7 linked regions of the Homo sapiens genome follow. The protein of the gene in region 1 purifies or fractionates together with the protein of each later gene. This does not show direct contact. Each region holds a gene or a part of one and is shown on either strand. Other genes may lie near its edges.

What was found.
Region 2: the proteins of AMACR (region 1) and ALDH18A1 purify together in Homo sapiens (affinity purification with mass spectrometry; one large-scale study listed by BioGRID and IntAct). This does not show direct contact.
Region 3: the proteins of AMACR (region 1) and AARS2 purify together in Homo sapiens (affinity purification with mass spectrometry; one large-scale study listed by BioGRID and IntAct). This does not show direct contact.
Region 4: the proteins of AMACR (region 1) and VWA8 purify together in Homo sapiens (affinity purification with mass spectrometry; one large-scale study listed by BioGRID and IntAct). This does not show direct contact.
Region 5: the proteins of AMACR (region 1) and EARS2 purify together in Homo sapiens (affinity purification with mass spectrometry; one large-scale study listed by BioGRID and IntAct). This does not show direct contact.
Region 6: the proteins of AMACR (region 1) and MMUT purify together in Homo sapiens (affinity purification with mass spectrometry; one large-scale study listed by BioGRID and IntAct). This does not show direct contact.
Region 7: the proteins of AMACR (region 1) and PCCB purify together in Homo sapiens (affinity purification with mass spectrometry; one large-scale study listed by BioGRID and IntAct). This does not show direct contact.

The regions. Positions count from the first base shown.
Region 1 is NC_000005.10:33,998,051-34,001,550, reverse strand, and holds part of AMACR (alpha-methylacyl-CoA racemase), read left to right. Parts: intron 1-2,723; coding exon 2,724-2,910; intron 2,911-3,500. UniProt on the Homo sapiens protein: Catalyzes the interconversion of (R)- and (S)-stereoisomers of alpha-methyl-branched-chain fatty acyl-CoA esters.
Region 2 is NC_000010.11:95,608,577-95,611,711, reverse strand, and holds part of ALDH18A1 (delta-1-pyrroline-5-carboxylate synthase), read left to right. Parts: intron 1-269; coding exon 270-456; intron 457-1,419; coding exon 1,420-1,515; intron 1,516-3,135. UniProt on the Homo sapiens protein: Bifunctional enzyme that converts glutamate to glutamate 5-semialdehyde, an intermediate in the biosynthesis of proline, ornithine and arginine.
Region 3 is NC_000006.12:44,303,348-44,306,847, reverse strand, and holds part of AARS2 (alanine--tRNA ligase, mitochondrial), read left to right. Parts: intron 1-315; coding exon 316-354; intron 355-456; coding exon 457-568; intron 569-1,061; coding exon 1,062-1,195; intron 1,196-1,649; coding exon 1,650-1,794; intron 1,795-2,030; coding exon 2,031-2,203; intron 2,204-2,314; coding exon 2,315-2,428; intron 2,429-2,526; coding exon 2,527-2,667; intron 2,668-3,424; coding exon 3,425-3,500. UniProt on the Homo sapiens protein: Catalyzes the attachment of alanine to tRNA(Ala) in a two-step reaction: alanine is first activated by ATP to form Ala-AMP and then transferred to the acceptor end of tRNA(Ala). Also edits incorrectly charged tRNA(Ala) via its editing domain.
Region 4 is NC_000013.11:41,688,610-41,692,109, reverse strand, and holds part of VWA8 (von Willebrand factor A domain-containing protein 8 isoform a precursor), read left to right. Parts: intron 1-171; coding exon 172-236; intron 237-664; coding exon 665-790; intron 791-1,834; coding exon 1,835-1,944; intron 1,945-2,601; coding exon 2,602-2,756; intron 2,757-3,500. UniProt on the Homo sapiens protein: Exhibits ATPase activity in vitro.
Region 5 is NC_000016.10:23,550,851-23,554,350, forward strand, and holds part of EARS2 (nondiscriminating glutamyl-tRNA synthetase EARS2, mitochondrial), read right to left. Parts: intron 1,455-3,500; coding exon 1,299-1,454; intron 1-1,298. UniProt on the Homo sapiens protein: Non-discriminating glutamyl-tRNA synthetase that catalyzes aminoacylation of both mitochondrial tRNA(Glu) and tRNA(Gln) and participates in RNA aminoacylation for mitochondrial protein translation.
Region 6 is NC_000006.12:49,449,754-49,453,253, reverse strand, and holds part of MMUT (methylmalonyl-CoA mutase, mitochondrial precursor), read left to right. Parts: intron 1-1,539; coding exon 1,540-1,788; intron 1,789-3,500. UniProt on the Homo sapiens protein: Catalyzes the reversible isomerization of methylmalonyl-CoA (MMCoA) (generated from branched-chain amino acid metabolism and degradation of dietary odd chain fatty acids and cholesterol) to succinyl-CoA (3-carboxypropionyl-CoA), a key intermediate of the tricarboxylic acid cycle.
Region 7 is NC_000003.12:136,295,340-136,298,839, reverse strand, and holds part of PCCB (propionyl-CoA carboxylase beta chain, mitochondrial isoform 1 precursor), read right to left. Parts: intron 889-3,500; coding exon 768-888; intron 1-767. UniProt on the Homo sapiens protein: This is one of the 2 subunits of the biotin-dependent propionyl-CoA carboxylase (PCC), a mitochondrial enzyme involved in the catabolism of odd chain fatty acids, branched-chain amino acids isoleucine, threonine, methionine, and valine and other metabolites.

The sequences.
Region 1 (3,500 bases):
TCTCTTACATAATGAGCTGTGACCTAACTGGATGTGTAAACAGACTGTAACCTGCTTTTGTAACAAGCAGCAAGTCTCAGCCAATCACAGCAGCCGTACTTCAACTAATCACAGGCGGCCAGCTGTTCAAACCATGTTCAAACAAGGCAAAGGCCCACTTGTAACCAATCCGGCTGTTTCTGTACCTCACTTCTGTTTTCTGTACATCATTTTCCGTCCATAAGTCCTCTTTGGCCCCAGGGCTACACTAGTCGCTCTGAACCTAGTCTGGTTCCACAGACTGCCCAATTCATGAGTCATTCGTTGCTCAGTTAAACTCTTAAATTAATTCGTCTAAAGTTTTTCTTTTAACAGTATCAAAGGTTGGTGGCAAATTGAGGCTGCGGTTTCCCTGTGTCAGGGGGCTCTTCACTCGCATGCATGGTATATGAGTGATGGGGCAAGAGAAGCCGTGTGCCAGGGTAGCCACTGCCAGGCCTTATGATGAGACGAGGAGGGTTCCTGCTGTATTTCTTGTCCTGTACCTCCTCTGATGCTAAGGATTAGACCAGAGCTTGTTTTTGTCCTGAGTGGACCCAACTGGATCTGTAACTCTGTTAACACGTCTATTTTTCAGCAGTCTCATCAGGGCGTTCAACATATAAAAGAGATTAAAGGGGTATTTTATTAGCATAAAACATTTTATGTTTACATATTCAATATTTATATATTATTTTGTCAGACCAACGAAGCTGTTCTGCTAAACACAAACACTGGAAGTTAGAGTTTATGGGTGATTGTCTCATCGCTTTCAGTATTCAGTTTATTACTGTATTTCATTTTGACTGGATGTTAGGAAAATCCTGAGTTACAGAGATAAGTTAAAAATATCCATAGTTTTTACGCAAAAATTAGCTGGGTGTGGTAGGCACCTGTAATCCCGCTACTCGGGAATCTGAGGCAGGAGAATCGCTTGAACCTTGGAGGTGGAGGTTACGGTGAGCTGAGATTGTGCCACTGCACTCCAACCTGGGCAACAGAGTGACACTCCATTTCAAAAAAAAAAAGACCCTATATTTTTAAAAACTTGCTTAAAATTTCAGATTGCATTTCATTTATGATGAAGCAGAACAAAAATACTTTGTTTCTAGGTCGACTCACTACAGTGTGTAAAAACTTCTCACATTCTTTGGCCTGAACATGAAAGCCAGATAAACAGTATTCAGAACTCTCTGCTAAAACTCTCTCTTGCACTGTATGACAAGCTTGCTTCCAGTTCATCTATTACCGCCCTATTGATTCGGCGTTAGGCTCTGAGAGAAGTAAAGCTTGAGCGGAAAGCAGGCACTTGCTTATTGAAGGTGCTAACTTGTTGGTTTTGTATGAGTCAGCACAAATTAAGAGGAGAGGAGAACCATGCAGAACAAAGGTTTTCCTCAATAGTGTTTCAAATACAAGGTAATATTTATGCAAAATTGGAAGGAAAAGCTTTATTTTAAAGTCTAGCAACAAATGTTAATGAGTTGAGGCTCTGATGAGTCAGAATTTGGTATAGGATACATTTAAATATGTGCTTAAATAACATAAACATAAAATATATTTAAAATAGTGCGCATATACATGCATATGTGTATATATGTGTGTGTGTGTATGTGTATAAATGTGGAACTCTAATATCTCTGTAATCCAGCCTCAAAAAAAGGCACTGCCGTAGGCCACTTGCATGAACTCAGCTATTTGGTGACAATAAATGTCACAGCCATAAATTCAGATGTGCGTGAAATTTCAAGTTAAGAGGGAAAATTGGATATATCCAAAGATACATTTTGTGGTTGTTCCACAGTCAGTAACTGAGAAATTGCTAGCAGTTGGAATGAGGCCTGCTCTATTGGTAGCTTTTGAGACGAGGATGCTTTGAAGGCCTTCCTCCTGGGGTGCTGGAGACATTAGGCTCATAAAAGGCATAAAGGTCAGAACATCATCTTCTTCAAATAGTCCAGTGCCTTCAGCCTTTGAGTTTGAGCCTTGTGATAATTGTACTTTATTGTGTAATTACTTCAGGACTCAGTGGGAAGGTGGCGTGATGAGATGACTTTAGGACTCAGTGGGAAGGTGGCATTCCCAAACCAGTTTGCCTGGACTCAGAAAATGCACATACCTGCCATCCATATTGTTAGTTTATTTTATAACTTTCTAGTGATTATGAAATACATTAAATACTCAAATACAGTTTTCTTGGGATTGGAATCAAGCCAGAATAAGCCAAATTTTACTCTTATGTGATTTACCTTTAAAATGTGGTATGGTTTATACATCTGTGTGTGTTTATAGGTATGGAGATCAGAAGATGGATTTTTAAAAGCTCTTTTAATTTTTAACTTTTTATCTTGGCAGTTTTTAACATTATAAAAAGTAGAGAGAATAGTATAGTGACCTTCCATGTACCCTCACCTAGCTAAATCACTAGCATTTTGCCAATCTTATTTGAAATGGAAAGCAAAGGTCATTTCTTCTAAGTCTTATAGTATTTTTGGAACTGAATAGTGCAGCCAATTGTTATTTTAACACAAACTGCTCTAACTCACTTTCTGGAAATACCAGAGAAGTTGTGTAATTAGGTAGAATCTTCGTATACTCTAAGATAAGAATTTTTACGCAAATTTTTTTTAACTTGAATGGGAGGAATTATTCATGCTTTGACACTTGAGTTATCTGGATTTGTCTTGTATTCTGTTTTCTCAAAGGTGGAAGGAACAGCATATTTAAGTTCTTTTCTGTGGAAAACTCAGAAATTGAGTCTGTGGGAAGCACCTCGAGGACAGAACATGTTGGATGGTGGAGCACCTTTCTATACGACTTACAGGACAGCAGATGGGGAATTCATGGCTGTTGGAGCAATAGAACCCCAGTTCTACGAGCTGCTGATCAAAGGTAAGTGAACTTCACGCGTCTCCCCCAGTTCCCCTTTTGCTGTGGATGTTCTTTGGTTCTATTTTAAAGACTTTTGGCATCTAGGATGTCTTTTATTATATAGCCACTTTCTAATTAACCTAATTATAGCCATCAATATAATGTGGGGCATTTTCCATGGCTTTTAAATTGACCAGCAGTCTTACTAGTCTATAAAATAGCTGAGGGTTTTAAAAATAATAATCCCTTTTGTAGGATGTTCGGTGCTTTTATTACAGTTCACTCCTTGTGTTGGATAATCTTGACCCTGTGTGCCCAGATCTTACTCTTCCCTAGAAATGATCTCACATGGGTTGCTTTCCATTCAATATTCTACCAGCTCCTATTTCTTGGTAGATGTCCCTTATGGCACTTCAATGTCAGAAGTCACCAGAGCATGGAAAGATTTTGCCAAATGAGATTCTGTTAGAATATGTTACTATATCACTATGCCTTTGCAGATGACCTGTCTTGCAGATTCTTGCCTGCTTGGCAAGTTGTCATAAATTAGCAAGAAAATTTGGGATCTCTTCTTCCCTAATTAAATAATTGGATGGGAGTCGTTTTGTTCC
Region 2 (3,135 bases), on another chromosome or scaffold:
GCGTGAGCCACCATGCCCGGCCCACCTTGCACATCCTTAACGTTCAAGGCTTCCTGCTTCAATCCCTGTTCCAACTGTCTTGAGGGCCCATTGCTGGCAAGTGGCCAGTCAGATCATGCTGGAGGGAGGAAAGTAGGACTAGTTCAGTTGTTGAGGCTACAGGAGCCACTTTGGGCTGTGGTTTTACAGGCTCACCTTTCTGTTCTATCCTAGAACTTGCTTATTTCAGTTGTTTTTATGTTGTTGCCCCTGGACTTCCTCTGTTCCAGGTAAAAATTCATGCAGGCCCCAAATTTGCCTCCTATCTGACCTTCAGCCCCTCCGAAGTGAAGTCACTCCGAACTGAGTATGGGGACCTGGAATTATGCATTGAAGTAGTGGACAACGTTCAGGATGCCATTGACCACATCCACAAGTATGGCAGCTCCCACACGGATGTCATCGTCACAGAGGACGGTCAGTGTCCAGATGCTTCCCGCATACAGTGTCTGCCTTTGCTGCTTTCTGATCCTGCTCCTCTTAGCCCCCCTTGGGCTGCAGAAAAACATCATTTGAGTAGGCTTATGGTAATGTTTAGTAGTGGTTGCATTTGGTACTTTGATGAGTGCTTTCACATCACTTTATTATATTGTCACAGCTGGAGGAGGAGGGGCAGGGATGATTAGCTCTGCTTCGAAGATGACTAACCCTGTCAGAGGCACTATCATTTAATGCGTGCAGCAAATCTTACAAGGTAGTTAAAATAAACCCATTTTACAGCTGAGGAAACCAAGGCAGAACCAACTCTGCACATTCATTCATTCATTCATTTATTCCACAAATATGTATGCAGGGACACTCCTGGGTGTCAGATACTGGAGCCTCAATGGTGGAGGATGCCAGTAGGGCCCCAATGAGGAATTTACAGTCAGCTAATTAGGGCACCAGAGCAGTACCACCCGTATTAACAGCCAACATTTACCAAGCACTCACTGTGTGCTAGGCACTAGCATGAGTACTCCCCAGGTGTTTCATCCTCTCTACAACCCTATCAGCTAGGTCATGTTGTAAGTCCCTTTTGACCCAGACACAGAGAGTTTTGTACACCTGCAGAAGGTCACAAAGCTAGCAGGTGTACAGCTGGAGTTCAGGCCTAGGAAGTCTGGCTCTGGAGCCCATAAGTAGGAAGTTTAGGCAGGTCACCTGCATGGGAGATCTGGATTCCAACTCAGTCTTTCCACAACACCGTGATTGATGAAGCTAACTTGTCTTCTTCCTGTTGAGATTTTTCATAAGCCTGAGTATTTAATACGTGAGAACACATGGAGAGGCCCCAGTGGGGACCCAGACCCTGCCCTGATCTGTCACCAGTCAATGGCTGGAAACAGGGATGTTCTCTGGGTATCATCCTAACTTGGTTTCTCCTTCTTCACCCTGCAGAAAACACAGCGGAGTTCTTCCTGCAGCACGTAGACAGTGCCTGTGTGTTCTGGAATGCCAGCACTCGCTTTTCTGATGGTTACCGCTTTGGACTGGGTAAGAAAGACTCTGGTTGGGAAGAAAGAAGTTCCTTGTGAAGCACTGTGTGGTCTAGGGGTATGTTGAGGTGGGAAAGACACCTCCCCTTGACTGTCACATGCTTGGTCAAGATAAGAGAGAAACAGGCTGGGTGCCGTGGCTCACGCCTGTAATCCCAGCACTTTGGGAGGCCGAGGTGGGTGGATCACCTGAGGTCAGGAGTTCGAGACCAGCGTGGCCAACATGGTGAAACCCTGTCTCTACTAAAAATGCAAAAAATTAGCCAGGTGTGGTGGTGCATGCCTGTAATCCCAGCTACTCAGGAGGCTGAGGCAGGAGAATTGCTTGAACCCGGGAGGCAGAGGTTGCGGTGAGCCCGAGATTACGCTACAGCACTCCAGCCTGGAGGACAGAGTGAGACACCATCTCAAAAAAAAAAAAAAAATAGAGACAGACTTCTGGCAAGGTAGGATTATCAGGGAGAATAATTAATGAAACCTCCCATGAGTTGGTGGAAGGCCTATCTTCTAAGCATTTCACATGCTAAGAAGGCAGGTACTTGTATTCATTTTTCAAAGAGGGAGAATGAGATTCAGAGAAGTATAGTAACTTGCCCAAAGTCCCACAGCTGGCATTCAGACCCAAACTTGAGCAAGTCCAAAGCCTGGGTTCTCCCGCTACAGCGTGGGCAACCACAGCCTGCCTTTTTACACAGGCTGCGCCAGAGGTACATGCTGTGTCCCTTGAGAGCACTCCTTTTACAGACTTATTTCGTCAAAATGGCACAGCCAGGTTGCCTCGGAGATAGGAAACCCCACAATGGTAGGACAAAAGAAGGTGCCGTGGGCCTAAGTACCAGCATCAAAACAAACAGGCCAGCCAGAAGTACAAGGTTACCTTCTACAGCAGACCTTGAAATAAAAAGCTTCAGAAGGGCACTTCTGTCCCTTTCCATTAGGTATAAAATTTCCAGCCCTCTGTCGTGTTGGGGTTATTTGGACAGTCTCTCGTTTTCAGGGGTACCAGTATATAAAACTCCAGAACGGGCGCAGTGGCTCACGCCTATAATTCCAGCACTTTGGGAGGCCAAGGCGGGCAGATCACCTGAGGCCGGGAGTTGGAGATCAGCGTGACCAACATAGAGAAACCCCATCTCTACTAAAAATACAAAATTAGCTGAGCATGGTGGCACTTGCCTGTAATCCCAGCTACTCGGGAGGCTGAGGCAGGAGAATCGCTTGAACCTGGGAGGCAGAGGTTGCAGTGAGCCGAGACCGCACCATTGCGCTCTAGCCTGGGCAACAAGAGCTAAACTCCATCTCAAAAAACAAAACAGACAAAAAACCTCCAATAATACATTTATGACACGTTTTCTGAATATTTGAGAATTATTTCAACCACTCAAAACATTTTAGGCCACGGGCAGTGGCTCACACCTGTAATCCCGGCACTTTGAGAGGCTGAAGCAGGAGGATCTCATGAGTCGGGGAGTTCGAGACCAGCCTGGGCAACGCAGCGAGACCTCCTCTCTACAGAGATGAAAAAATTATCCAGGTGTGGTGGCGTGAGCCTGTAGTCCCAGTTACTCAGGAGGCTGAGGCAAGAGGATCCCTTGAGCCCAGGAGTTCGAGGCTGCAG
Region 3 (3,500 bases), on another chromosome or scaffold:
CCCCCAGCCTGGGTGCCCAGAGGTCCCCACCCTAAATATCGAGCCCAGCATCCTATCAGCAAGCTAAGAAAGCTGTCCTTGCTTACAAGAAGCAGGAGAACTTGAGGAGGCTCCTTTTCCAAACTGCTCAGCCCTTGACCTCAGGACCCCCTTCTGCCACCCTACAGGGAAACCAGTTCCCCATTTGAGTCCCTCTCCCAGCCCCTCAATGTGTCTGAGCCTCCAGGGCAGGTGTCCTCAGGGAGGCCCAGGGTGGGGAGGTGGGGGTGGGTTGGTTGCCTTTCACACCTCCTCAGCCCTCTCCACCTCCCCCAGGGAGATGCTTATCCAGAACTGCAAAGGAACTCAGCCCAGGTACTGGATTCCAGTGGGAGAGAAAGGGGTTGATGGGAGAGTTGTGGAGAGAGACCCTCCTTCCAAGGAGACCCAGCTCCACTTCTTCTCTGCCTGGTTCAGATCGCCAACCTGGTGTCAGAGGACGAGGCAGCCTTCCTGGCCTCCCTGGAGCGGGGTAGGCGGATCATTGATCGGACTCTGAGGACCCTGGGGCCTTCAGATATGTTCCCTGGTAAGCAGGATACCTAGCCCATGCACAAGGGGCTCGCTGAGACTCACCAAGGTGGGCAGAGGAGGGAGCTCTGGGCCAGCCCCATGCCTCATATCCACCCCTGACCTCTTCCCAATGTTCCTTTCTCCCTGGACTCTCCTTCCATACCCAGACCCCTCTGCAGCAGGAATACCACCCTGCCTCTCCCCATGTCCACAGTGCCCAGCTAGCCCTGCCTCCTGCTTTCCTAGGTTGGCTTCGTGCATAGACTGAGCTTCCCTCCTCCCTTGAAATGATGTGTGCCCAGGGAGTACCCTGGACTACCCCCAGCTCTGGCCTTGAGGCATGAAGCCTGAATGTGACCCCTCTCCTGAGGCTACCCAGTATGGAGCGGGTATTTGTGTTTGGCATCTGGTGGCTTCTGCGTGGTTAGAAGGGCCCTGGACCTTATTTTTCTCCCCTTCTTTGTCTAATCCCTCCCCTCCTCAACATTCTTTGTCTTTCTTTCTCAAAGCTGAAGTGGCCTGGTCCTTGTCACTGTGTGGAGACCTGGGACTCCCCTTGGACATGGTAGAGCTGATGCTGGAGGAGAAAGGGGTCCAGCTAGACTCCGCTGGACTGGAGCGGTTGGCCCAAGAGGAGGCCCAGGTACAAGCTGTGGCACCCCATGCTGGGTTCTGTTAGGACACCTCTTCCCCAGCCCTGAGCTCCTGGGGGAGGAGCTGTGAATATTGAGAGGAATCAAGAGGCTGAGATAGGATCTGTCCCCTCACCTGGGAGGTTTCTAAAACCTCAGGCCACAACCAGTAGAAAGCAAAACTAGCCAATGGGCTAAACACAGGAGCAGAAGCCAGCACAGCTTCCTGGAGAGGGGCCCTCCAGGGGCAGCAGTGGGCAGGAAGGCCTAATCCCGAGGAGCCGACATGATGGATGGTTCAACCAGCTCAGGGGCTCTAGCAGCCAGCCAAGCCCTGAGTTCTTATTCCAGAAGGGCTGCAGAGTCCACAGCTGTGTGGCAGGGACAGGGCCCTGCGAGGCTGAAGTCCCACTTTCATTCTTTCATTCTCCATGCACTTCTTCCATGCCCATGCCCACCCTGCAGCACCGGGCACGGCAGGCTGAGCCAGTTCAGAAGCAGGGATTGTGGCTTGATGTCCATGCGCTTGGGGAGCTGCAGCGCCAAGGAGTGCCCCCAACTGACGACAGCCCCAAGTACAACTACTCCCTGCGACCCAGCGGAAGTTATGGTGAGAGCCTGGACCAAGGCCTGCCGCCACAAGCTTGCCTGACCATGACTAAGAAGAATGTCCAAGATGGTTGCTGCTAGCCCCTATGTATTCCCCAGGATGGCCACCAGGGGTCTCTGTGGCCCCCAGCTGGAAGTGCCCCTGCCAGCGGGGGTGCTTGTTGGCCTCCAGGCACAGACCCACCTTCACGTCCCCAGCCCCTGCCCACCACTAATAACCATTCTGTGCCCTGGCAGAGTTCGGCACCTGTGAGGCCCAGGTGTTGCAACTGTATACAGAGGACGGGACAGCAGTGGCCTCCGTGGGGAAAGGCCAGCGCTGTGGCCTCCTCTTGGACAGGACCAACTTCTACGCAGAACAGGGGGGCCAGGCTTCAGACCGTGGCTACCTGGTGCGGGCAGGGCAAGAGGTGAGTCTCCATCACAACCCAGGCTGATTTCTGTGGGCGGCAGACCCAAGCCTGAGTGGGAGCCAAGGGGAGGGAAAGGCTACAGGCACCTTGACCACTACCCTCCCTCAGGACGTGCTGTTCCCAGTAGCCCGGGCCCAGGTCTGTGGAGGTTTCATCCTGCATGAGGCAGTAGCCCCTGAGTGCCTGCGGTTAGGGGACCAGGTGCAGCTGCATGTGGATGAGGTAAGGATCCTCCCTAACTGTTCCCAATACCCTGCAGCCCCTTCACTCTCCCAACCCCCTGCCCTCACCCAGGACGCTGGGTGACAAAAGTATTTCAGGCCTGGCGTCTAGGCTGCATGGCGAAGCATACGGCCACCCACCTGCTGAACTGGGCACTGAGGCAGACCCTGGGCCCTGGCACAGAGCAGCAGGGCTCCCATCTCAATCCTGAGCAGCTGCGCTTGGATGTGACCACCCAGGTGAGCCCGGCATAGAAAGACAGGCTTCATGTGAGGTGACAGGCATAAAAGAGAGACAGCCTGCTGTGAGCGGGTTGCCCTTAGAGTCCTGGGCTCTAGGCCCAGCACGGCCACCCAATCACTATGGGACCCTGGGCAAGTCCTTTCCCCTTGGGCTCCTTGTGCAGCAGTGAGGAGTCAGGCTACAGAGTGTCTGGGGCCTCGCCCAGCTCTGATGTGGGATCCTGAAGGCCCTCCAGCAGGGGCCTTCCCTTCACCTCCAGCCGCTCCCCTTCCTTGTTTCTACTGTCATCCAAGCCATTCTTGCCTAAACTGGGCTGCCCTCTCCCTCTGCTGCCACCCTGTCTCCCTGCGCTTCTTACACATCTGGCTTAAATCCTTTCTCCAGGAAGTACTTGCTGGCTAATCCCCATCCCACCTGCTTATTCCCTGCCCCTGCATCCCCCCATCCTGTAGTTCTCTCTTCCATTGGGCTACCCCTTGTAAGCTCCATGTGGATACAGCCTCCTTTTTCTGTTTCTTTAACTTTTGGTGCCTGGTGAAAGGCCTGGAGCTTCCAATAGGCCCAACTCCCAGATAGCTTTCTAAGGAAAATAATTGTCTGCTCAGGTAGTGTTTATTGAGCACCTATTATGTGCTAGCCACTATTCTAGAACCTGGGGATAGCTCAGTGAACATTGACCGTGTTTCAATGCATCAGTTAGAGGTGTGGGGCTGACTGCATGTTGGTCTTTCCATTTCCTCCCCACCCCTCCAGACCCCATTGACCCCAGAGCAGCTCCGGGCAGTGGAGAACACTGTGCAGGAGGCCGTGGGGCAGGATGAGGCTGTGT
Region 4 (3,500 bases), on another chromosome or scaffold:
TTTAATCCATTTTACCATAAGAGTCTTAGAGCAGATAAATAGATAGCTTGTTTGAGAATTACATGTTTTACTAGTTGAAGAACTTTATTTTATTTAAGGGGAAGTAGCTAAAGAGGGACATGACTGTATCTGACACATTTAATATGAATATCTTGTTTTGTTTGTCTTTAGGAAACTTATAAAATGTGTAAAGAATTTTCACACAAAAACTGGCTGGTGTTCTACAAAGAAAAAGGGTGAGCTCTTTATTATAGAGGATTTAAACTGGAGTTCTTATTTGGCCCATTCTATTTCCTATTTTGATTATACTTGTTTACTATAAAGTGAATGTAACCAAATTATGAATGTTTTAATATAAAGTAACTTGCCCACATTGCAGAATATTGAGAAACAGATATAAGAAAAGCTAGTGCTCACAATTCCATGACATAGCCACTACTAACATGGCAATGGTTACTACTTTCCATTATTTTTACTTATACACACCCTGACATAGTTTAGAATTTTGCATATCTGTTTTTTTAATTAACATTTTTCTATATTATTACTTAATCTTAAAACATTCTTTTTATGGGTTGCATAATGTATCATGAAATGATTATGCCAGATTACTCAACCATTATCCTCACCATTTCCTTTCAGATACAGTTTTCTTCTTTTCCAGGAACAGCCTGACTGTGCTGGATGTTCTAGAAGGGCGAACTCACACCATCTCACTTCCCATCAACCTCAAGACAGTTTTCCTTGTAGCAGAGGACAAATGGCTTCTGGTGGAGAGCAAAACAAATCAGTGAGTGGCTTTATATAGTGTATCATGGAGTATGTTGTAGCTCAATCTTATTTATGAATTATCCAACATCTTTACTGTTCTGTCTTTCCTGTGTCTGTCCTTTAACAATTTCTGTGTTTGGCAGCATCTCTATATATGAGACTTATAAGAATTGAGGAGGGGAGAAAAAATAAATGTCACTTCTCAGAAAATGACATTGAAATTAACAGTTAAAAAATCATGACTTTTTCATATGATCCATATTTATTTGGGCTTTTTCCTATTTGTACATTGAGAATTCACTGTATTCTTGCTAAACTGGAGACACTTCAAAGTAGATTTTCCCTTCAAAGAGCCACAGTCTCTATCCTAGAGCTGTTGCCTCTTTGTAAATTCACAGAGTTCACACCTTAGAAGTGTCTTTCTCTTTTTATCTTGTGTATTCTGGTTTGGATGTGGTTATGTTTATGTTTATGTTATCTGACCCATTGGACTGTGCAGTTCTTGATGAAAGGCGGTGTCGACTTTGAGCACCTTCCCTCATGCACAACTCCACTAGCTAAGTGCAGACTCTTTCTGCCCCTCTGCTGACAAGCAGAAGTATCTCATTGCAGAGGATTTCTGCCTATATATACATCCATATTTTAGAAATGTTAAAAATAAGTAGATCAAGGAGACTACAGTTGTGAGGGCATCTATCTCCTAGCTGATCACAAATCAGAAGTCATACTCCCCCTTCCTGGCTGATCAAAGAGTTTTATCAAGAGAGGGTTACATGATAATAAGAGTGCACCCCATTAGAGTTGCTTCCCCTCCCCACAACCCTTTCTCTTATAGGAAGCATTGGATTTTTGCCTCACATTCATTACTGTATTGCTGTTGTGCACTGCTCTTTAACACAGTGTTGAGAAGTTATTTGTTAATTCATGATGAAACTCTAAAACTGCAAATTATACTGGAACTATAAAAAAGAGACTGAGGAGAATCTAATTTTTCTTAGTCTGGCCTTATTACTATTAGAAAAAGAAAAATTTCACTTAAGCTAGATGTTTTGTTTGTTTGCAGGAAATATCTTTTAACTAAGCCTGCACACATCGAATCTGAGGGTAGTGGGGTTTGCCAGTTGTATGTGCTGAAAGAGGAGCCGCCCAGCACAGGGTTTGGAGTTACACAAGGTAAATACTATGTCATCTGTGTTTATGGCTGTGTGAGTGCATGCTTGTACATATACTGTCTTCTAGAATCATTTAAGAACAAAACACCAGCCTATGTTAAGTTTACACCAAAAGAAAAAACTTAGTCACTACACCAGAAATAGTAAATAAGAATCTAGTATCTCAAATTGTCATAAGGAAGTTCACTGTTGTAAGCTCTGTCCTTGAATTTTTTTAACTGACAGATCAGTATTTTTATATACATTTAGGTTGCAAGTCTAATTTAGGATAACATCTTTTTTCTGCAGACTATTGGGATTTCTATTTAATTTATCACAGTTTTGGGGGATGAATAGTACTTACGAAAAAAATCTAAAACATACCATTGCCAACCCTTGGTTGGGTCAGTTTTTACATCTTTTCTACAGGGAGCTATTAATTATAATATTTATTCCTAATAAAATTTTGAATTCTGTAAATACTTGAAATCACTTTGGGAAGATGCCTTGATTATAAAAACAGCATTTTTTCAAACAAAAGCCCATGAATGTAATTTAAAATGTTTTCTCTTTTTTAACTTGTTCTTTTCCATTTGACTTGTTGAGAATAAAATCTTGCAAAAAATTAATTCCTGGAGCATTTCAGGAGCATATGGTGTCTAATGTTTGTACTTTTCAGAAACAGAGTTCAGCATACCTCATAAAATTTCCAGTGATCAACTATCATCTGAACATCTAAGTTCAGCTGTGGAACAAAAGATTGCCTCTCCCAACAGAATTCTCTCAGATGAGAAAAATTATGCTACAATAGTTGTTGGTTTTCCAGATCTCATGGTAAGCACCCATTTTTTAAATTATCGGATAAATGTTTCTTTCCCTTAGTTTGACCTATAATCTGTAAGCCTGTTTGAGGGGTAATTAAAAACATAATTTCCTGGTAAACATGTTGGATCAAGTCTTCCTTCCAAATCAGTCAGTAGAAAATATGTTATACCTAAATAGTTTCATTACACTTCAAAAATTAACATTGAAAGCGTAATGCAATGATAGAATTTAGTAGGGGGAAATGAGTATTCTCCATATGTGGGGGTTCATGTAATACAGTTTAAATGCTTAACCTTCTGATGGTAATTTTCTGTCATGTCTTCTATAATTTTTTAAAGTTAATTATTTTTCCATCTACACATTCTATATATTTATTTATTAACTTTTATTTTAGGTTCAAGTGTACGTGTGCAGGTTTGTTATATAGGTAAATTGCATGTCACAGGAGTTTGTTGTACAGATGGTTTGGTCATCCAGATAATAAGCATAGTACCTGATAGGTAGTTTTTTGATCCTCACCCTCCTCCCACTCTCCACCCTCAAGTAGGTGTCAGTATCTGTTGTTCCCTTCTTTGTGTCCGTATGTCCTCGATGTTTCGCTCCCACTTGTGAGAACATGTGATATTTGGTTTTTTGTTCCTGTGTAAAGTTAAATTTGTTGGATTGTCATTATTGTAGATTAAAATTTTCAACAGTCATGAAGATAGATTTATTTTCCATTGAGTTTTGCTCTGATTTATCATATCTTTGCAG
Region 5 (3,500 bases), on another chromosome or scaffold:
CTAGCAGAGTCTTGGTATTTTTCCTTGGGAATCTCCCCTTTCCTAGTCACACCCGTCCATACAGGTAGACAACTGTCGACCCATGAAAAGGAAACACACTCCTCTTTGTTCTCCCTGACCTTAGCTGTCCTCAGGATAAAACTTCCCACAAGATCAACTTCAGAAGCTGTACGTGTTTTGTGTGGCTTATACAACATGGTTAAAAAAAATCTGAGCCCAGATTTAATAATGGTTAAGTATTCATCCAGAAAAACTGGATTTCTGGCTCCTCTTGCAACTCAGAGGATTGGACAAGCTGGGCCAGCATTCCCGCATGGGCACAAGGAGCTGGAGCTCAGAGGCACTCCCAACTCTGGATGAGGTGTGGTTTTCACAGCTCAGCACTGGCCCAGCTCCTCCAGTTCCCACTTGGCCCTGTGTTTCCTGCCTGGCCCCTGTAGGGAATGAACTTGAGATTCTGAGGTGAAAACAGGAATCTCAAAACAGCCTTGGCAGTGGCTCACACCTGTAATCCCAGCTCTTTGGGAGGCTGTAGCAGGAGGATTGCTTGAGCCCAGGAGTTTGAGAATAGCTTGGGCAACACAGTGAGATCTCATCTCTACAAAAAAATTAAAAATTAGCCAGGCGTGGTGGTGCGTGCCTGTAGTCCCAACTACTTGGGAGGCTAAGGTGGAGGATCACTTGAGCCCAGGTCGAGGCTACAGTAAGTTATGATTGTGCCATGGAACTCTAGCCTGGGTAACAAAATGAGACCCTGACTCTAAAAAATTAAAAAATAAAGAAACCAAGTTGGGCGCGGTGGCTCATGCCTATAATCCCAGCACTTTGGGAGGTCGAGGCAGGTGGATCACGAGGTCAGGAGGTCAAGATCATCCTTGCTAACACAGTGAAACCCCGTCTCTACTAAAAATACAAAAAAACTTAGCCGGGCGTGGTGGCGGGCGCCTGTAGTTCCAGCTACTTGGAGGCTGAGGCAGAAGAATGGCGTGAACCCGGAAGGCGGAGCTTGCAGTGAGCCGAGATCGCACCACTGCACTCCAGCCTGGGCAACAGAGCAAGACTCTGTCTCAAAAACAATAAATAAATAAAAATAAAGAAACCAGTCTTGGAGCTGTGTTTCAGAGAGCTTCGGCATTTTTTCAGGTGTCATCTGCCACCCCGGGCAGGGCAGTACAAATGTAGCCACTTCTCCAGGAACTCCCCATTTTCCACTCAGAACTCCATGAGAAGACCCACAGGCTCCTTTTCCTGCTTCCTGTTCCTTCCCTGCAGAAAGATCCTTTCTCTGCCAGGCTTACCTGCCCACTCCAGCATGTCCTCAATATTCTCCGCTGCCCCAGGCACAACGCGAGTCTGATCTGTGTCCTCTAGCCTCAGGATGAAGCTCCCCTGGTACTTCTTAGCAAAGATGTAGTTGTACAAGGCAGTGCGGAGGCCACCCAGGTGCAAGAAGCCTGGAGAAGAGAACAGCTCAGATAAGACAGGGAAGATAAGCTAATAGGCCTCAGCAAGGGGCAAGTAAGCACTACTGTGACAGAATGTTGCAATAAATTTAAAAGACCAGCAGGACACATTGGCTCACGCCTGTAATCCTACCACTTTGGGAGGCCAAGGCCGGGGGGATCACTTGAGCCCAGGAGGTTCCTGTAGGTTTTTTAAGACAAGAGTCTCACTCTGTCACCCAAGCTGGAGTGCAGTGGCACAGTCTTGGCTCACTGCAACCTCTGCCTCTTGTGTTTAAGCAATTCTCATGCCCAGCCTCCCGAGTAGCTGGGATTACAGGTGTGTGCCACCACGTCCAGCTACATGTTTGTATTTTTGGTAGAGACAGGCATTCGCCATGTTGGCAAGGCTGGTCTTGAACTCCTGGCCTCAAGTGATCCCCCCAGCCTCGGCCTCCCAAGTGCTGGGATCACAGGCAAGAGCCATCACACCTGGCCAATTTTTGTATTTTTAGTAAAGATAGGATTTTGCCATGGTGGTCAGGCTGATCTCGAACTCCTGACCTCAAGTGATCCATCTGCCTTGGCTTCCCAAAGTGCTGGGATTACAAGCGTGAGCCATTGTGCTTGGCCTGAGTTTGAGATCTGCCTGGGCAACATGGTGAGACCTTGTCTTAGCAAAAAATATAAAAATTTAGCTGGGCATGGTGGTACATGCCTGTGGTTTCAGTTACTGAGGTGGGAGGATCACCTGAGCCTGGGGACGCTGAGGCTGCAGCGAGCCATGATCACGCCTCTGCACTCCAGCCTGGGCAGCAGTAGAGTGAGACTCTGTCTCAAACAAAAAAAATTAAAAATTAAAAAATTTTTTTTCAAAGACTAAGAACTAGTTACCCCTGTGCCCTGTCTCCAGACACATTTAATCCCTCATCCTGAAAATGGAAACCACCCAGGATTTGGAGCATGTCATTTTATTAAAAGGCTCCAATTTTCCCCAACTGCATCCACCACTCTATTTTGATATTTGTCTCAAGGCCAAGTTTCGCCTGAAAGAGAAGCAGAGAGTTATTCATTGAGGCCATATCATGTACATTTAACTTACAGAAATTCAATGATGTGCGCTGGGAAAAAAATTAATTACAAACAAACTAGAAATTTAAAATACTGTACAATCATATTGTGGGCCAGGTGCAGTAGCTCACACCTCTAATCCCAGCACTTTTGGAGGCAGAGGCACGAGGATCACCTGGGTCTCTAAATTTGAGACCAGCCTGGGCAACATTGTGAGATCCTGTCTCTACAAAGAAAAAAAAAATCGGTGGGGCATGGTGGCTCACACCTTTAATCCCAGCACTTTGGGAGGCCGAGGCGGGTGGATCACAAAGTCAGGAGTTTGAGGCCAGCCTGGCCAACATGTTGAAACCCCGTCTCTACTAAAAATACCACAAAAAAAATTAGCTGGGCATGGTGGTGGGCGCCTGTAATCCCAGCTACTTGGGAGGTTGAGGCAGGAGAACTGCTTGAACCCAGGAGACAGAGGTTGCAGTGAGCCGAGATCGCACCATTGCACTCCAGCCTGGGCGACAGGGCGAGACTCCATCTCCAAAAAAAAAAAAAAAATCACATTTTGCATATGCAGTCTATGCAGTGTGCATGACTGTCCACGTCGTACATTTTAAATTTCATCTACTTGAGATTTTTACTTTTTTAAAGAAACAAAATTCATTTTTGAAATTTGAGATGGGGTCTCACTCTTGCCCAGGCTGAAGTCCAGTGGTACAGTCACGGCTCACTGCAGCCTCAACCACCCAGGCTCAATCAATCCTCCCACGTCAGCCTCCCAAGTAGCTGGAACTACAAGTGTACACCACCATGCCCGGCTAATATTTGTTTTTTGGTTTTTTTTTTGCAGAGGCAAGGTCTCACTATGTTGCCCAGGCTGGTCTCAAACTCCTGGGCTCAAGCAATCCTTACACTTCAGCCTCCCAAAGTGCTGGGATTACTGGCATGAGCCACCATGCCTTGCCAAGATTTTCACCCTAATTGCTGGCTTTAAAC
Region 6 (3,500 bases), on another chromosome or scaffold:
GCCTGGCCAACCTGGCAAAAACCTACCTCTACTAAAAATACAAAATTAGTTGGGCGTGGTGGTGCATGCCTATAATCCCAGCTACTTGGGAAGCTGACGTAGGAGAATCACTTGAACCTGGGAATCGGAGGTTGCAGTGAGCCAAGATGACGCCACTGCACTCCAGCCTGGGCAACAAGAGCACAACTACGTCTAAAAAAAAAAAAAAAAAAAACAAAGAAAGAAAGAAAACAGAATTTGATGATGAGAAGGAAGCAAAAGTCATAAGTTAGTACTCTCATATAATTGTAAGAGTTATAATTCTTAACATAAAACTGCCTATTTAAAATTAATTATATATACATACATATTTTATGTGTTAAAGTTATGTATTTAAGCAAGCATGCAAGCAGACTGTTTAAAGACTGTTTTTACTTGGGTAATTTAATTTGTTCTCTTAAAAATTGTATAGTTATGGCCTTGTTTTTATACATGTTCTCTTTACATATGAAATTATTTTGGTACATTTAAAAATAATTTATATGTGCAAAGTTACATTGCTTTTATACATTTAAATGTTGAATAATAACTATTATACTCTGTATGAAATAAAACTTCAGGTTCTTATAAATGGAGAAATAGACCTGGCACAGTGGCTCACGCCTGTAAATCCCAGCACTTTGGGAGGCCAAGGCGGGCAGATCACAAGGTCAGGAGATCAAGATCATCCTGGCTAACATGGTGAAACCCCGTCTCTACTAAAAATACAAAAAAATTAGCCAGGTGTGTTGGCAGGCACCTATAGTCCCAGCTACTCAGGAGGCTGAGGCAAGAGATTGGAGTGAACCCGGGAGGCAGAGCTTACAGTGAGCCGAGATTGCGCCACTGCACTCCAGCCTGGGCAACAGAGCGAGACTCCGTCTCAAAATAAATAAATAAATAAAATAAAAATAAATAAATAAATACATGGAGAAATAAGAGATTTTTAGGGTTGGAAGGAACTTTAATAATCATTTTTATTTTAACCTGCTTATTTTTTCAGCTAAAGAAACTGAAGTTCAGAGAGATCCAATGACTTGCCCAAATCACAATTAGGCATGCAATAAACTAGAACTCAAATTTCTGATATCTCAGTTCATTGTTCATCTATTTTATTAACATTTATTCAGTGCCTGTTTTGTACACATCATTGTGGTAGATACTGTGAGGTAGACAAAATAATCAGCAAAGAGTGAATTATGAAATGAAGGACTATATAATCTTAAGTAGAAAAAGAATGCATTGTTGATATACTTATAGAAAAGTATTTAGGCAATATAAAAGTAAGCACAACAATATCTGATATTTCAGAGGATTATAAGAGGCACTAAACACTGAACTCTGACTCTTCTAATTTTGGCTTCTAAACTAATTTGTCTGAATTTATTTGCTATTCTGAAGCTTAATATGGAAATTGACATAGAAAATATGCAGCAGTTGCTGTTTAATCATGTTGCTGTTTATAGTTGCAATATCTATCACCTGTTTCTTTGAGTTTTTGTTTTTTATCAAATATTTTAGGATCCCTACAATAATATTGTCCGTACTGCAATAGAAGCAATGGCAGCAGTATTTGGAGGGACTCAGTCTTTGCACACAAATTCTTTTGATGAAGCTTTGGGTTTGCCAACTGTGAAAAGTGCTCGAATTGCCAGGAACACACAAATCATCATTCAAGAAGAATCTGGGATTCCCAAAGTGGCTGATCCTTGGGGAGGTTCTTACATGATGGAATGTCTCACAAATGATGTTTATGATGCTGCTTTAAAGGTAAGTTTTTCCACTTTGCAACTTTGTTTTCAGAATTTACAGATTTGTAAAGATTTATAGATTTTAAAACTTACAAGTCAAGATTTATAGATTTTAAATTTATAAATCAAATCACTTACAGATTTATATAATAATTTAAACGATGTTTGCAAAAAAAATTCAGATTTGATTTTATAGTTTTCAAAACAATCCATTTAAAAATACATTTCTATTAAAGTATTTTATTAAAAGAATTAAAAAGACAGCTAGTATTAAAAAGCTCATACAAAGAACAGCAGTTTTTGATCATCCACTTGTTTTTTCCTGCTTCCTGGAGTAAGATACATACTTCTTTGCTTATTTTTGTTTTTATCTGCATAGTTTAAAATCACATGTATACTATTTCTTGTAATTTTATCAACTGTAGACATTACACATGAGACCTTAGACACTATCTATTGCTTTCCTAGTAGGGTAGTTTAGATTTTGGCTGATTCATACCCCTACTTTTCCTCCTCCCTTACTACCAATATAATTATATCTCAATGTAATCTTTTCTGAATTCTTCTAATGTTCTCATTTGACTTAAATTGTTTTTTCTCTATTTCTGCTCACTATTGCTGTTCTTTGACTCCTCTTTGCCATTATAGTAGGAATATATTTTCATTTCTCCTCTGTTTAATTCTGAATCTTGAATCCCATGTCTATCTCTTGGTTATTTGGAAGTACATCTCATAGAAACCTGCTAAAAATGGTGCATGGGAGATAAATTATTTGAAACTTTTCCTGTTTGGGAATGTCTTTATTCTATTTTTATAATTGATTAATAGCCTGACTAAGCTTGACATTATTTCCATTCAGGAAATTCATAAGCAAGTTTATAAGCATTGATCTGTTTTTTATTCTAGATTTTTATTCTGGCTTTCAATATTTCTGATCAGAAATTTGATGCCATTCTCATTCAGGATCTTTCTTTCTGAAAGTATTGGGACCTCTTCTTTATTTTTTGTATTGATGTATAACTTGGTGTATTTTTTCCTACATGGTACTGAACCTTTATTGGGTCTTTTTCATCTCACCTTTTTTTAAAAAATATTTTTATAGCTCTAGGAAATTTTCTTGTATTATTTCTTTGACAGTATTTTTCTTGTCATTTTCATATGGGTTCTCTTTCTAGAACTCCTAGTCATAAGCTACGGACCTCCTTAAATAATATCCTGATGTGCTGATGTTCTTATCTTTTTTTTTTTTTTTTTTAAGACAGAGTCTTACTCTGTCACCAGGCTGGAGTGCAGTGGCGTGATCTCGGCTTACTGCAACTTTTGACTCCCTAGTTCAAGCGATTCTCCTGTCTCAGCCTCCCGAGTAGCTGGGATTACAGGCACACACCACCACACCCGGATAATTTTTGTATTTTTAATGGAGACGGGGGTTCACCGTGTTGGTCAGGCTGGTCTCAAACTCCTGACCTCGTGATCCACTCACCTTGGCCTCCCAAAGAGCTGGGATTACAGGCATGAGCCACTGCTCCCTGCCTGCTCTTATCTTTTCTATAGTATATCTGTTTGCCTTTTTTTTCTGTGTTCTTAAAGATTTGTCAACTTTATATTTCTACTTATTTTTACATTCATGTATTATATTTTTGATTCGTAGAGCTCATTTTTGTTTTCTAATTTCCCCCTTATAATTAATGTCATCTTCATTTGTTTCATTAGTACAGAATCCATTTATAT
Region 7 (3,500 bases), on another chromosome or scaffold:
AAACAATACAATTTCAAATCCCTTCTGCAGAAGAAAGTCCAGGCCAAGTGAGTGCTTATAATTTGGAGAGGAAATAAAATGGAACGGCTAGAGGTGTGGAGCAGTTCCTGGGCAGGGCCTCCACTTTACTCTATGGTGCCTCCACAACAGGTGGTAGACTCCAACAGCAAAAGGAAAGGTCTTCACCAGATGGCCAGCAACACACCCTTCCCCAGGACTGTCCCAGCCTCTGGCTATAAGCAGTATGCATAAACATGTTTCCTAAAGGGCATGCTGTTTGCATCATTTTACATTTATTTATTTCAAAAGGACAACTAGGTAGAGCCCAGGAACCAGTCACTTTAGACAGAAAAAAGCCAGGTATAGTCAGCATAAGAAGAATCATGGCTCTTCCTTTTGTGGGTGAGGGGAAGGAAAGGAAATGGGAGACTTCTTCATGGGGACTAGGCCAGACCAAAAAAAACTTGAATCTCTAATTCTAGATAACTTGAGAGTTTCTTAGAAATCAAAAAATTTTTCTTTAAAACTGTTTTGGGCCACTCTTCACCACCAAGATATACATTAGATATTACAGAGAGGAAAAAGGAAAATAAAATCATCTTTCTTTGCTCCTATAGCCAAACATGACATCATCCCCACACCTGGGAGCCACTCTACCACACTCTGCTGCAACTTGCCCAACAAGGCAGACCCTGGGGGTCCTGTCAGGGCAGAGAAAGGCAAGCTACACTGCAAAATGAGAGAAGGTGCACCGGCCTACAACCCACCTGGGATCGTGGCACTCACGGACGGGAGCCGGGTCCTGACTGCTCAGGGGCAGGTAGTTGAAGAAATCCCGGAGATTACACAAGGCATCAACATCATTTTCAAAAGCTCTGTGGGCCACACCTAAGAGAACAGGGAGCATATATGATTGAGTCAGGGTACCAGCCAGCCCAAAGTTGCTGCTTCATGCCTGACTGCGCCCTTCTAGGGCATGTCAGTAGCAGACCGTGCTGATAGCTCTGTTCTCTGCACCCTCCACTGAGGATGTAATGCCACATAATACATACCTTCCGGGTGATCCTTCAACTCATGCAGCACATGTTCCCTCTGTTCTGCAACCACACCTCTACAGGGGTCACACCTTTCTTTATTCAGGTCCTTGCTCTAATGTCACCTCCATACCCACTCCCAGATCCTTCACTATCCATCCCTATACCATGCGGGAGTTCTCCTCCCGTACTTTTCTCTGCATCACCTATTTCCCTGTTTACTGCCGGACATCTCTCCTGGAATATCAGCTCCAACAGGGTAAGATCAGGCCTGGCCAACATTAAGAATAATGTACCTGGCAAACAGGTGCACAGCAACAGTGGAAGGAAAGGAGGGGAGCCACCTGCCCCTAGTGAGAATCAAGCCATAATTCTTGAAGAGCACTCTGAAATCACAGAGCAGCCAAACAAGGCCATAGGTATGATGGAGAAAGCGGAGCCAAGAACTCTCTCCCCAGGTTCATCCCACCAGACTCCTTTCTTTCACCATTGCCCCTACGGTCTCTTGTCCACAAAGCTGACAGACAGAGCTTTTTAAGTCAGATCGTGTCATGTCTCTACTCCAATGATCCTCCTTGTTCACTGATCGGGCCAGTCACTCTCCTACCGAGAGCCTTTGCATAAGCTGTTCCCCTCTGCCTGCAATGCTCCCCACTTACATATCAATGCAGTTAACTCCTTAAAATCTGCTCAGCTCCTAACCTCAGTGAGGCCTACTGTTACCACCCTATTTGAAACTACAACAATCCCAGTCCCCTTTACCCTGTTATACTTTTTCCATAGCACGTATTGCCTTCTAACATACTGCATAGTGTACTTATTTACAATGTTTATTGTCTATCTCCTCTACTAGAATATAAGCCCCATATGGGCAGGTGTCTTTCTTTTGTTCTGTCCACAGATGTATTCCTAGCACCTAAAACAATGCTTCACACATAGGTACTCGATGAATATTTGTTTTGTTTTGTTTCTTTTTTTACATTTTTATTATTCTATTTTAAATTTTTAATTCCTTTGCTATTTGCCTTTTTCCACATATTCTAAATGAGTATTTGTTGAATAAAAAGCATTTTCAGCATGACAGAATTCTTTCATTCAAAAAATATTTATAAATGGGTACAGCCACTTTGGAAGAGAGTCTGTCAGTTCCTTAAAAGTTAAACATCGAGTTATCATTTAACTCAGAAATCAAAGAGAAATGAAAACATATGTCTACCCAAAAACTTGCATATAAATATTAATACAGGCATATTTATGATAGCCGAAAAGTGGAAATGACCCAGTGTCTATTAACTGGTCAATGAATAAACTAGATGTGGTATATCCACACACTGGAATATTATTCGGCCATAAAAATGAATAAAGTACTGATTCATGATACAACATGGATGAGCCTTTAACAACATTATGCTAAGTAAAAGCAACCAGTTACAAAAGATCACATATTATATGATTCCATTTCTAGGAAATGTCCAGAATGAAAAAATCCACAGAGACAGAAAGTAGCCTGGTAATTGCCTAGAGCAGAAGTATCTGTGGTTGAAATGCAGAGTGACTGCTAATGGGCACAGGGTTTCTTCTTGGGGTGATGACAATGTCCTGAAATTGATTGTGGTAATAATTATCCAACTCTGAATGTATTTTAAAAACCACTGAATTGTACACTATAAATAGGTGTTTAAAATATACGGTATATGAATTACATCTCAATAAAGCTGTTACCACAAAAGAAAAAAGAAAAGAGAGAAAAATATATGTACGGAGCACCTTTTTGTGCCTTGCCCTGGGGATACAGGGCCAAGTGCATCAGACACAGTCCATCAAAGAGCCTCAGGCCCAGAAAGAAAACCACATACTGCCCTACAATCAAAAAACAAACAAAACGTACTTGAGATTGTGCTACAGAAGAAACTTTAATGTCATGGGCAGACATTCATTACTTTAAGCTGTCAAGTAAAAAAAAAAAAAAAACTCAGGTTACATAAGAGTATGTCCATACCTATGTTTGAGTAAGTGTTTGTGTATTCACGCTCATGTGCGTGAAAAGACTGCAAGGGTATAACCAAAAAATCACTAGTGATTATCTGTGGATGATGGAATATCTAGCAGTTTTTATGCTTTGTATGTTTTCTAAGTTTTGTACTACAAACATATAATGCTATTAAAATGGGGAAAAATAAACAGCATATTTCATCAAATCTAAGACACCATCAAGACCCAGCTTTATATTATATACCAGCAAGAAAAACAGGCTGCTGCCAATAAAGCCCTGAGACAATAGCATGGCATCAGGCCGTGCTGGAGTTGATGCTAAGAAGTGTTCTGATTCTAGACATGTCTTAAAGATGGGGCTAAATGATGCTGATAGGTAAGGGAAAGGAATGAGTCAAGATCGATGCCAACCTGACATGGGGAGAAACAATTTTTGTGGGTGGGGGATCAAGAGCCCTAACTTTTTTAAAACTA